Linked DNA regions of Homo sapiens: all the other regions are linked to region 1. Evidence: fine-mapped expression QTL. A gene starts in region 1. Each other region holds a variant in brackets. All regions are shown on one strand. Distances are from middle to middle.

The links. PIP is the estimated chance that this variant, and not a neighbour inherited with it, causes the effect. A credible set is the group of variants that fine-mapping cannot tell apart.
Region 2: its variant is the best candidate, but not a certain one, in a credible set for the expression of ALG12 in whole blood (INTERVAL, PIP 0.54).
Region 3: its variant is the best candidate, but not a certain one, in a credible set for the expression of ALG12 in whole blood (TOPMed, PIP 0.53).

What each region holds. Positions count from the first base shown.
Region 1 is chr22:49,916,748-49,920,747 of GRCh38, forward strand. It overlaps ALG12 (ALG12 alpha-1,6-mannosyltransferase), which reads right to left and starts at 1,691. Exons shown (of 10, transcript NM_024105.4): 1 at 1,516-1,691. It overlaps CRELD2 (CRELD disulfide isomerase 2), which reads left to right and starts at 1,887. Exons shown (of 10, transcript NM_024324.5): 1 at 1,887-2,151; 2 at 2,483-2,565; 3 at 2,983-3,093; 4 at 3,409-3,500. The coding sequence starts at 2,023. RefSeq lists silencers at 1,281-1,480, 1,591-2,090.
Region 2 is chr22:49,879,114-49,883,274 of GRCh38, forward strand. The region is part of intron 1 of ZBED4 (zinc finger BED-type containing 4); the gene reads left to right. It also overlaps a transcript of ALG12 not described here. Among named protein-coding and RNA genes, the nearest start is that of ZBED4, 27 kb to the left of the region's middle. RefSeq lists an enhancer at 2,647-2,876. The variant C/T (reference allele first, on the strand shown) is at 1,990.
Region 3 is chr22:49,941,284-49,945,444 of GRCh38, forward strand. No RefSeq gene overlaps it. Among named protein-coding and RNA genes, the nearest start is that of PIM3, 17 kb to the right of the region's middle. RefSeq lists enhancers at 1,422-2,148, 2,149-2,874 and a silencer at 2,823-3,002. The variant G/A (reference allele first, on the strand shown) is at 2,090.

The DNA of each region.
Region 1 (4,000 bases):
TCAAGACCAACTTGGGCTACATCATGAGACCCCATTTCTACAAAAATAAAAAATAAAACGGAACGGGGAGCATCTACGTGCCAAGATGTGGGAGGTGCACACAGCAAGTGCTGCTTGGCAGTCCCCCACAACCCCACTCCACACCTCTCCACCCAGGGGAGTTCCCCAGCAAGGAAGAGTTCAGCTGTGGGGTGAAAACATTACGTGCTGACTCTGACACTCCTGGCGGGCCCCCAGCACCTCCTCGGACCCAACAAGGTGTGCCTTCTGCTGATGACCAGCACAGCTCACTTTCGAGGGCATGAGAAGACCAAGGGTGAGTCTGGATTCTCTGCCAGGAGCACGGGAAGACCAAGTCAACACCAGCAAGCACGAAAACCACGACGAACCCCCCACCAGGCGAGGGTGAACGGACACTGTCCTGCACTAGCCCACTCTGCTGGGCAGCTGGGCAGCAGCTGTGGCTAATCTAAGTGACGGGTGCTTCGAGAGCACCCACAGGTTAAAACGGGCCCAGGCCATGACACTTTAAAATGGTGGTTTACAGAACAATGGCATCTCAGATTAGGGAATGACCTGCAAAGACCCTCTTGTCCCCATCAATCCAGATTTTAAGGCCTCTACCGAAATTGATCAAATCAGGCTAAGCATGGTGGCTCACGCCTGTAACCCTAGCACTTTGGGAGGCTGAGGCAGGCAGATCGCTTGAGGTCAGGACTTCGAGACCAGCCTGGCCAACATGGTGAAACCCCGTCTCTACTAAAAATACAAAAATTAGCCGGACCTGGTGGTGGGTGCCTGTAATCCCAACTTAGGAGGCTGAGGCAGCAGAATCACAGGAACCTGGAAGGCGGAGCTTGCAGTGAGCTGAGATCGCGCCACTGCACTCCAGCCTGGGCGACAAAGTGAGACTCCGTCTCAAAAAAACAGAAAAGAAACTGGTCAAATCAGATGTTACTTTTTTTTTTTTTAAATGTGCAGTGTTATCTGCACTCCTTCCTTCCACAGGCAGGAGTTCTCTGAAATCCAGACGCTGCACGTTTTATTTCCCCTAATTTAAACCAGGGGTTCCTGAACATGAGCGAGTGTTCATCACCTCAAGCGCCTGTAGAAATGCAGATCCCCAGCCCCCAGAGACCCTAAGTGGACCCCAGATCCCCAGCCCCCAGGTGAAAAACCCATCCCCCAGGTGGGAGGTCCGGCCCCAGGTGAGGAGCCCGGCCCCAGGTGAGAGGTCCAGCCCCAGGTGAGAGGTCGGGCCCCCGGATGAGAGGTCCGGCCCCCGGGTGAGAGGTCTGGCCCCCAGGTGACAGGTCCAGCCCCAGGTGAGGAGCCCGGCCCCAAGTGAGGGGTGCAGCCCCAGGTAAGGAGCACGGGGCTGTGACGCGTGGACATGCGCGGTGAGGCCTCAGGAATCCAGCGCCAGCGCCAGCTCGGGTCGCGCCCTCGCCCGCCTCCTCCCTGGTCTCGCCGCGCGCCCGCCTGAAGGCCCCGGTCGCGGCAGCGCGCACTGACCTCCGCAGCTCCCGGCGGCGTCCTTCGAAGCGCGGCTGCCTGGGCCAGCCTCGGCAGGAAGCAGGACGGCGGAAACAGAACAGAGCCCGAATCTAAAGTCCTTGCCCAAATCTAAAGTGGCTACCGCAGCCCCGGCCGCTACGGCCGCAGAGACCCTCTGTGCCCTGAGTAAAGATGGCCGCCGCGGGCTGCGCGCGAGGGGCGGGGAGCGGGAGGCGGGGTCGGACCTGCACGCCCCGCCCCCGGACTCCTGGCGGCCGCTGATCCGGGGCCTTCCCATTGGTCACCTCTCGTGGCGAACTCGGATTGGGCCATATCAGGCCGGGGCGGGTCCCATCAACCAATAGCGGCGCGGGGCTGGCGGGTGGGGCGGGGCCTCGCCGGCGCCGTCAAGTAGCCTGGGGGACAGGCCGGCGCGGCTGGGAGCGGGTGGGCGGCCGGGAGGCCGGAGCAGCACGGCCGCAGGACCTGGAGCTCCGGCTGCGTCTTCCCGCAGCGCTACCCGCCATGCGCCTGCCGCGCCGGGCCGCGCTGGGGCTCCTGCCGCTTCTGCTGCTGCTGCCGCCCGCGCCGGAGGCCGCCAAGAAGCCGACGCCCTGCCACCGGTGCCGGGGGCTGGTGGACAAGTTTAACCAGGTGGGAAGGGGCCGGGCGGGGTCGTCAACCTTGGGCCCGGGGTCCCCCTCACCCTGCATCCGGGGTCGCCCCACCTTGGGCCCAGGGTCGCCCTCACCCTGGATCCGGGGTCCCCCTCACCCTGGATTCGGGATCCCCCTCACCGTCGATCCAGAGTCCCTCCACCGTGGTCCTGGAGTCCCCCTCACCCTTGACCCGGATCCACCCCCACCGTGGAACCAGGGTCGACGCCACCGTGGGCCTGGAGTCCCCTCACCCTCGACCTGGGCTCGCCCCCACCCTGGACCCGGGTCAGGTGGTACCAAGCACTATGGGCACTGTCTCCTCGCAGGGGATGGTGGACACCGCAAAGAAGAACTTTGGCGGCGGGAACACGGCTTGGGAGGAAAAGACGCTGTCCAAGTACGAGTCCAGGTGGGTGCCCTGGAGCACCCCTGTGGGTCTTGGCCTGGCGCTGTCCTGGGAAGTCGTGTCCTGCCTTTGGTGCCTGTGTTAATGACAGGGAGACAGAACAGCCCCCGAGGCACCAGTCACCCGTCCGAGTCACCTCGGCTTCTCCCTGAGGACTAATGGCTGGCCCCTCTCTGGCCTTCCAGCTTCTGCTCTGGTCCCTACCCCCTCAACAGACAGTGGCTTTTCAAAATGTAAACTGGAACACCAGCCCCACTTGTGGGAACCGCTCCTGGCTTCCCCTGACAGTGGGGTCCCCTTATTCTCTGTGCCCGGAGTCCTGGCTCCCCGGCCCCTGCACCCAGGTTGGCGTATTGGTTCGGATTTTTCTTCACTGCCTTGGAGGCGCTGACGGTGGGCCGGTGTGGGCCTGTGTTTCAGCGAGATTCGCCTGCTGGAGATCCTGGAGGGGCTGTGCGAGAGCAGCGACTTCGAATGCAATCAGATGCTAGAGGCGCAGGAGGAGCACCTGGAGGCCTGGTGGCTGCAGCTGTGAGTGCCTTAAAACCTCTTAGAAGATACTTTTTATTTTCCAACTTAGAATTTGAAATAACCTCAGACTTAGAAAGGTACAGGAACAGTAGGGAGCTCCCACCTGCCTCGCACCCACCTTACCCCTGCATTACCGTTTTTTATCACCAGAGTCAGCGATCAAAACCAGGAAATTAAGGAGAAGATTCTGTCCACACCTAGACTCTTGTTTCCTGGACCTTACAATACTCCAGAGCATATGTTACGTTCAGCTGCATGTTTGTTTTAAAGAACCGTGTCTGCTGGGATTCAGTGAATGTTTTCCTCCATCCTCAGGAAGAGCGAATATCCTGACTTATTCGAGTGGTTTTGTGTGAAGACACTGAAAGTGTGCTGCTCTCCAGGAACCTACGGTCCCGACTGTCTCGGTGCGTTTCTCCTCAGGGAAATCCCATCTCCTACGTCACTTCCCCTCTTCTTCTCATGATTCTTGGGAGGTAAAAGCACAGAGGGGACCTGGGGTGCATCAGCTTTCTGTAGGGTCTGGGACCCTGCCGGATGGCTGCCTCCCCCATCCCCAACACAGCTTGGAGCACTTCGCACCGTCTGGCTGCAGCCTCACCACTAACCTCATGCTTTAGCGTAAAACTCTGAGTATGTCTTCCCAGCTGTGCTGTTAATTCAGGGGTTCACAGACTCAGGTTGTTCACAGCTGAGTCCACTCACCTGAGAGTCTGTCCTGACTGACCTGTCCAGGTGCTTCTCCCTGTGTGCACAGAGGTGACCACACCACAACTTCTGTGGCTGCTATTGCAGAGAGCGCAGGGCACTGGGTGTCTATCAGGCTGGGCACATGGCCTTGAGCCCCAATGGGTGCCAAGGGACAGGGCTCTTCTGTGAAGAAGTGTGCATTGAAACTGAAGTCACG
Region 2 (4,161 bases), 38 kb before region 1:
TACCCTGGCCACAGAGTGGGACTCCATCTCAAAAAAAAAACAAAAAACAAAAAAAAACAGGAGTGAAGTGGCGCAATCTCGGCTCACTGTAACTTGCGCCTCCCGGGTTCAAGCGATTCTCCTGCCTCAGCCTCCCGAGTAGCTGGGATTACAGGCACGCGCCACCACGCCGCGCTAATTTTTTTGTATTTTTAGTAGAGACCAGGTTTCGCCATATTGGCCAAGCTGGTCTCAACCTCCTGAGCTCGGTTGATCCGTCTGCCTCATCCTCCCGAAGTGCTGCGATTACAGGTGTGAGCCACCAAACCCAGCCTAATTTTTGTATTTTTTTGCAGAGACGATGTTTTGCCATGTTGCCCAGGCACACACCACTATATCCGCTCTTACAATAGCTGTTTTCATGTCCTTGTCCACTAATTTTATTATTTGTCTTATGTCCGGGCCTGTTTTTATTGGTTGGTTTTTCTCCTGGTCAGTGTCTGGGCGTGTTTCTATTGGTTGGTTTTTCTCCTGGTCAGTGTCTGGGCGTGTTTCTATTGGTTGGTTTTTCTCCTGGTCAGTGTCTGGGCGTGTTTCTATTGGTTGGTTTTTCTCCTGGTCAGTGTCTGGGCCTGTTTCTATTGGTTGGTTTTTCTCCTGGTCAGTGTCTGGGCGTGTTTCTATTGGTTGGTTTTTCTCCTGGTCAGTGTCTGGGCGTGTTTCTATTGGTTGGTTTTTCTCCTGGTCAGTGTCTGGGCCTGTTTCTATTGGTTGGTTTTTCTCCTGGTCAGTGTCTGGGCCTGTTTCTATTGGTTGGTTTTTCTCCTGGTCAGTGTCTGGGCCTGTTTCTATTGGTTGGTTTTTCTCCTGGTCAGAGGTGGTTTTCTCCCGCTTCATCGCAGGTCTGGTTGTTTTTGTCAGCCATTTTGTATTTTACTTTATTGGGTGCAGGATTTTGTTATATTCCTTTAAATGCTGTTGAGACTTGTTTTAGGTTGTAGTAAAGTTAATCATAGACCGTTTCCTCCTCTTGAGGCTGGCGTTTAAGCTGTGTTCGGGTGGCTCCTAACACGGCTTAAAAGAGCGGCCGTTGTTGTGAAGCCCACTGTTCAGTCCGGACCCTTCTGACCCTGCTTGCTGTTCACTCTTGGTGGTGGAAACACAAGCTGTTCCCAGCCTCCAGGGAGCCCTGGCAGTTCTTTTCCCCTTTGGTTCTCTGAGGGTGGTTTCCTCAAATGCAGATGCAGATCAGTATTCAGCCAAAGACACGAGGAACCTCCGCAGGTCTGCGTAGCTCCCTCCTCTCCCGCGCTCGGGACATGCTCGAGACCACCGGGCTCTGCCAAGTTCCGACTCCCCGCCCCGCAGCCTGGAAGCCTGGAAGCCCCGCCGTGAGCGAGGGCAGGTGGGGCTCCCTCTTTAGCTTTCACACTTCTGTGATCACTGTCCTGTGCTTTCTCTTCTCTCTCAGCGTCTGAAAACGTCGTTTCGTGCACGGCGTCTGGCTTATGAGTTGTCTGAGGTCAACCTGGTTTCCTTTGTTTTGTTCATCATGGCTAGAAGTGGAAGTGACTGTGAGTCCAGCTTTGTTCTTTCTTTCCAAAATAATTTTATTTATTCCTGATTCTTTGTATTCCCATATCAATTTTAGACTTCTGTTTATCAGCTACTGCAAAAAGCGTTTTGGAATTTTGACTGGGATCATATTGAATTTATAGGTCAATTTGGGAAAATACTGATGTCAACATTGAGTTTTCTAATCCATGAACTTGGTATATTTCTCCATTTGTTTAAAAGCCTTTAATTTCAGCAGTGTTTTGCAGCTTTCAGTATACAGGTCTTCTTTTTAAGACCTGTATACTTGTGTACCTGTATACTAAAACAAGCATATTTTAAAAATTTTATCTTATTTCATGCTTTCATGCATGCTTTTGGACATTATATGTGGAATTTAAAAATGTTTCATTTTCTGGCCAGGCGCAGTGGCTCAGGCCTGTAAACCCAGCACTT[C/T]GGGAGGCTGAGGCAGGTGGATCACGTGAGGTCAGGAGTTCAAGACCAGCCTGGCCAACATGGCGAAACCCCGTCTCTACTAAAAATACAAAAGGAATTAGCCGGGTGTCATGGCACACGCCTGTAATCCCAGCTACTTGGGAGGCTGAGGCAGGAGAAGCACTTGAACCCAGGAAGCGGAGGTTGCGGTGAACTGAGATCGTGCCGCTGCACACTGCAGCCTGGGCGACAGAGTGATCCGTCTCAAAAAAATTTGTTTTTCATTTTCTAATTCATCTGTAGAAATACAGTTGCTGTTTTTTTGAGATAGGATCTCACTGTTGGCCAGGCTGGAGTGCAGTGGCACAATGATAGCTCACCACAGCCTCAAACTTTTGGGTTCAAATCATCATGTCTCCTCAGCCTTCCAAGCAGCTGAGATACAGGCACGCACCACCGCACCTGGCTAATTTTGTTTGTAAAGACAGAGTTTCACTATTATTCAGGCTAGTCTTCAAACTCCTGCCCTCAAGTGATCGTCCCATCTCAGCCTCCTGAGTTCCTGAGTAGCTTGGGACTACAGGCTCACCATACTTGGCATTTTTTGTTTGTTTGTTTTGTTTTTTGTTTTGTAGAGAACAGGGTCTTGTTTTTTTGCCCAGGCTGATCTCAAACTTGTGGTTTCAAGCGATCCTCCCACCTCAGCCTCCCAAGTACTAGGGTTACAGGCATGAGCCACTGTGCCTGGCCTGTGTTAATTTTTTATTTTTCTTTTTTATCTGGCTGTACTTTGTAGAACTTATTGGGAATGCTTTTCAGAAAGAACCTGCATTTATTTCTGGTGGGAGCTAGCAGTTTTTATTAACCTTGGAACACTTTTTAGGGCAACCATACATCTTGCTTTGCTACAGATAGGTTTGGCTTAAGCCTGTTTCCCCAGCAGTATTATTAATAGCTCCCTTTCACTCTCAGAAATGCCCTGGTTTAGAAAATACATGATGTGGTGACTTCAGTTCTTGGTTCCTGCATGGTGGAGGAATGTCGGGTTCAGCTCCTCCCTGTGGGGGTGACCCATGCTGACCAGGCTAGGGATGGCGCACCTCTCCTGCCCATTTGCCACTCCCTGTGTCCCTTGAAGAGTTCTCCCACTTTCTGGCATGCCCAGTAATACTTTAAAAAGTAAGTTTGTGGTGGGCGCATTGGCTCGCGCATATAACTCCAGCACTTTGGGAGGCTGAGTCGGGAGGAGGGCTCACACCTGGGAAGTCGAGGCTTCACTGAGCTGTGGTCACGCCACTGCACTCCAGCCTAAGTGACAGTAAAACTCCGTCTCTTCAAAAAAAGTTTGTTAGAGGTTTTCTAGAGTCTGGTTTTATTATAGAATATTTATGCTGCCATATTACTGAAAACATGCTTTTGTTGCTACTTGGTTTTAGTTCCTTAGTAAACTGCTCCATCTCCTACCCCACATGACTCCATCGTCCTCCGAGCTTCGGCTCAGTTACACCCTTACAGCTCCTGCCCCTGTTCTCCGTCTTGCCCTGCTCTCTCCTGTCTTTGTAACGCCATGTTCCTTCACTTCCAGCGTTTACCATAGCTGGAATCTCACGGTTCTTGGCTGTCAGGTCCCGTGACTGTCTCCTCTTGGCTGCATTCCAGCACGGCGCAGCATCACTTGGGGACGGGGCATTGAATGGGTGACAGGAGGATGGGCTGGAAGCGGTTTTCACCCACAGGACGCCTTTCCCTTCTCAGATGCAGGAGCCACTGTGGTCCGTTTCCTATTCAGCTTTTCGTCTGGGTTGATGATTTCACACGTTAGCTAGAGTTTTTCAAATTCGTATTTCATGTATCAGGTCTTCTAGCAAGGAAGGATGAATAGATCTCAAGGAATTCAGCTTTGCTGATTATAGCAGCTGTGAGTACCTCTCATGAACTGTTTGAAGGATGAGGGCATAAATTCTAGATGAGGCAACCTCTTTATACCATTCTAGGTTTTAATTCATGTTCCCCAATCCTTTATTAATAGGCCACTTGCATTTTTTTTCATGTCTCTATTTTTTGCTTATTTTGCAATTTGGGGGTATTGTCATCCTGTAAACGGATTGCAGGAAGTCAGAGAACAAGTTTTTCGATTCCAGTTTTCCATTATACAGTTTTTTTCTATACATATTTAGGCGGATGGAGCCATGA
Region 3 (4,161 bases), 25 kb after region 1:
GAGCCGTGGCAGGGGCCAATCCAGGGCCTCTGGGCCCGGTGAGGGCTTGGGGTTCACTCCCATCAGGTGGGGCTGCACCAAGAGGCTGTGGCTGATGCTCAGAGGGTCTCTGCTGCTGAGCACAGGTGGGGACTGGGAGCAGCAGGCTGTGAAAGTCCCAGCCCGTTGGGAGGACAGGCAGTGGCCTGGCTGGATTCCAGGTCTGTTTTAATGTGGAGCTGATGGAACTTTCGGAGGCCGGGGTGAATGGTGAGATGTAGACAATTCCAAGAGCGGACACGGCTGGGGGGGCCAGGGCCTCAGTTCACACCCTGACCTGCCTTTGCGCAGAGCGGCTCCCAGGAAATCACACCCTTTCTGTGGCAGACACAAAGGTCAGGTGTGAGGGGGCAGGTGGACTGGGAGTTGGAGGAAGGGGAGGGCCCGGCCCTGTGAGCAGAGGGTGACCCTTCCCTGGCATCTGCTGCTGCCATGTGCCCCAGAACCACGAAGGTGTGTGGGTCCCACATCCACGTGCAGGCCTTGCATCCATGGCTAGGTCCCACGTCCAGTTCCAGGCCCGACATTCTGGTCCCTGGGTCCAGCCCATGGCCTTCCTCCATGGGCGTGCTGAGGGCCTGCAGCCCGTTCTCTGCCAGCCTGGCCCCTAACACAAGGCAGTGACCCCAGCCTCTCACCAAGGGGACCCATTAGCCACACTGCATCAGGCCTATGGCAGGTGCTCAGTGCAGTGTGGGCCATGATCCCAGCAGGCCCCACACCTCTCCAGATGCTTCCTGACCCCAAGGAGCCTGCATGCTGGCCAGGGTGGAAGCAGCTCTGAAGAGTCAGCACTCGCGGTGGCCAGGACCAGAGAGGAAGGCAGAGTGCCTGTGTCCCAGGAAAGAAGAGGGCATGGCGCCCAGCTGCGGGGCTGCTCTCAGGGCAGCAGCTGCTTTGGGGACACCTCAGCTGGAGTCTCAGGTCAGGGAACCCTTGTGTCCACACATCCACCTGTCCATTCACCCAGGGGTCCACCCATCCAGCCTTCTGCAGTGCTGACATCCATGGGCTCCCCAGGTTCATTTAATGGTGAATGAATGAATGAGCCCACTGTTTATCCAGGCGCCACTGTGGGCCATGGCACAAGTGGGCTCTCAGGAAAAACTACTTATCAAATGATGAATGAATGAATGTGTGAGAGACAGAGTGAGTGAGTGATTGAGTGAGTGAGTGATTGAGTGAACGAGTGATTGAGTGAACGAGTGATTGAGTGAATGAGTGAGTGAGTGAATGATTGAGTGAGTGAATGACTGAGTGAATGAGTGAGTGAGTGAATGAGTGAGTGAATGAGTGATTGAGTGAACAAGTGATTGAATGAGTGATTGAGTGAACGAGTGAGTGAGTGAATGAGTAATTGAGTGAACGAGTGAGTGAATGAGTGAACAAGTGAGTGAAAGAATGAGTGAGTGAATGAGTGATTGAGTGAATGAGTGAATGAGTGAGTGAATGAGTGATTGAGTGAACGAGTGAGTGAATGAGTGAGTGAATGAATAAATGAATGAGTGAGTGAGAGAATGAGTGATTGAGTGAATGAGTGAGTGATTGAGTGAACAGATGAGTGAATGAGTGAGTGAGGGAGGGAGTGAGGGAGGGAGGGGGTGAGTGAGTGGGGGAGAGAGTGAACTGGCCTCCCAGTCCCCCAGCTGCTCTCTGCTGACCCAAGATCTGGAGGTGCCCAGCTCCCGTCCTGCCCTCCCAGGTCAGTGGTGGCTGCATGTGGGAGGGAGGAGGGGTCCGAATGTTGTACTGTGACTTCTGAAGCCACAGGCAGCGCCGGAGTGTCTGGGGAGGACACAAAGCCAGGCTGTTCCCTGCGCAGGGGCTGGGCCTGCCTGGAGGTGAGCCGGGGCCAGGTAGGCTGGGGCCCGGGGGAAGGAGGGCTGGCCTTGCAGACAGGACACGCTGTGGTGGGCGCCGGAGCCTCCAGACCCGGGGTCGGCCTCGCCCATGCCCAGCGGCTGGTGTGGACCCCCAGCTGTCTCAGGTGGGGTGGGGTGGCCCCTGGGTGGCGGCGTTTCTGCAGCCCACCGAGCCACAGGCCGAGAGG[G/A]TCCCAGGGAGACTGGAATGCCAGCTCCTCATGGAATGGCCTTGGTGGCTCTGAGCGCTTTGCCTGAAAATCACTCTTTCCTAAAAATCACTCTAAGGAACTTGCTCCCCAAGCCTCCAAACCCAGAGCAGAGCCCCCGAAGCTGCTTGACAGGCGGGTGAGTGGGTGGGGCCGTGTGGTAAAGATCGTCTCATCTGAACAGCCCCCGCAGGAGGCCCTGGGTAGGCCTGGCCCCTGGTCGCTGAGGAGTGCCCAGCCCTCCAGGCCCCTGCAGGTCCCCCCAGCGCCCCACACCAGCCCTCCAGGGTGGGCCTGGCTATTGTCTCATTTCCAGCCAGGCCAGCTCTGGGTGCCATGCAGCCCATCGTGAGCTGAGAGCGGAACTCGGGGCCCTCGAGGCCCCCCCCACCCCGCCGCCCAGGCCTTTAGGGAAGAACCCACCCACCAGGCATGTCAGGAAGGTCGGGTTTTCTCCACGGATAAGGATCCCCACCTTCGGGGTCATCGGAGGTCACGCTACCCAGAAGGAAGAAGGTGAACGCAGGCCGTAGGGCTTCCTGGAGGAGGGGACCCCGGGGAGCAGCACCCAGCCAGCCAGACGCACGGGGGTGGCATGTGTGCATAGGCGTGTGAGTGCTGGCATGCATTTAGCGCCAGGGAGGGAGGCCCAGACTCACAGTCTTGCCAAGCTAGACACCTTTAGCCCTGGGCCCCCAAGAGGGGCAGCAACCCGGCGGGCAGGCTCCTGGCAGTCTGAGGAACAAGGCCCGGCTGGTAGGGATGGACATTTCCACTTCAAGACCCGCCAGAATCCCCCACCTGCGGGTCACCCAGGCCATGGCTGGCCACAAGCCGCCCTGCCGGAACTGCATGTTCTCAGTGTGGGCCCGAAAGGGATGGGGAGGCTCCTGCTCATCCTCAGCTGCACTCCCGCCCCCACTGCCCCTCTGGGAAGCCCCTGGCGTCTAACGTCCCATCAGCCAAAGACTTGCCAAGCACAGGCCCAGGCCTGGTCACCCCCAGCAGGGTCACCTCACTCTGGCCATGGAGGAGGTTGTGACACAGGATGGCCAGGCCTCAGCCCCACAGAGCTGCCTCCCTGAACCCTGTCCTGGCCTGGGAAGACTGGCTCTCACACTGCTGGGCCTGGGGACCAAGCCTGTGGGCAGAAGCGGCCCTCCAACGCTCAGGACAGGCCTGGGGTTGTCCAGGCCTCCCGGGTCCTGCCTCCTCCTGGACCTGGCCTTGGTCTGAGCACCTGTTCTCTCCATGCGGGTACCTGGGCCTCTGAAATCCCCGCTGGTGGAGGAGGTGTTGGGTGGCCCAGGATCACCAGCACACCAGGTGGCAGCCTCCACCCCAGACCTCAGGCTGCAGTGCCAGGCACCCAGAGCGCCAGGAGCCCACCGCAGTCACAGTGACAGCCGGGCCGTGCATCTTGGGGTGCGCTTGCGCCAGCCCAGAGCTCCTGACCGCATGATGTCCTGGGGGGTTGGGACCCGGAAAAAAGTCTCACTGCTCACCAGCCCCCCAGGAAACTCCGCCCCTTTACAGTGTCGCTGCTCACCAGTACCCCCAGGAAACTCTACGCCCCTTTACAGTGTCACTGCTCACCAGGTCCCCCAGGAAACTCTACGCCCCTTTACAGTGTCACTGCTCACCAGGTCCCCCAGGAAACTCTACGCCCCTTTACAGTGTCAACTGCTCACCAGGTCCCCCAGGAAACTCTACGCCCCTTTACAGTGTCACTGCTCACCAGGTCCCCCAGGAAACTCTACGCCCCTTTACAGTGTCACTGCTCACCAGGTCCCCCAGGAAACTCTACGACCCTTTACAGTGTCACTGATCACCAGGTCCCCCAGGAAACTCCGCCCCTTTACAGTGTCACTGCTCACCAGCCCCCCAGGAAACTCCGCCCCTTTACAGTGTCACTGCTCACCAGCCCCCCAGGAAACTCCGCCCCTTTACAGTGTCACTGCTCACCAGCCCCCCAGGAAACTCTGCCCCTTTACAGTGTCACTGCTCACCAGTCCCCCCAGGAAACTCTGCCCCTTTACAGTGTCACTGCTCAC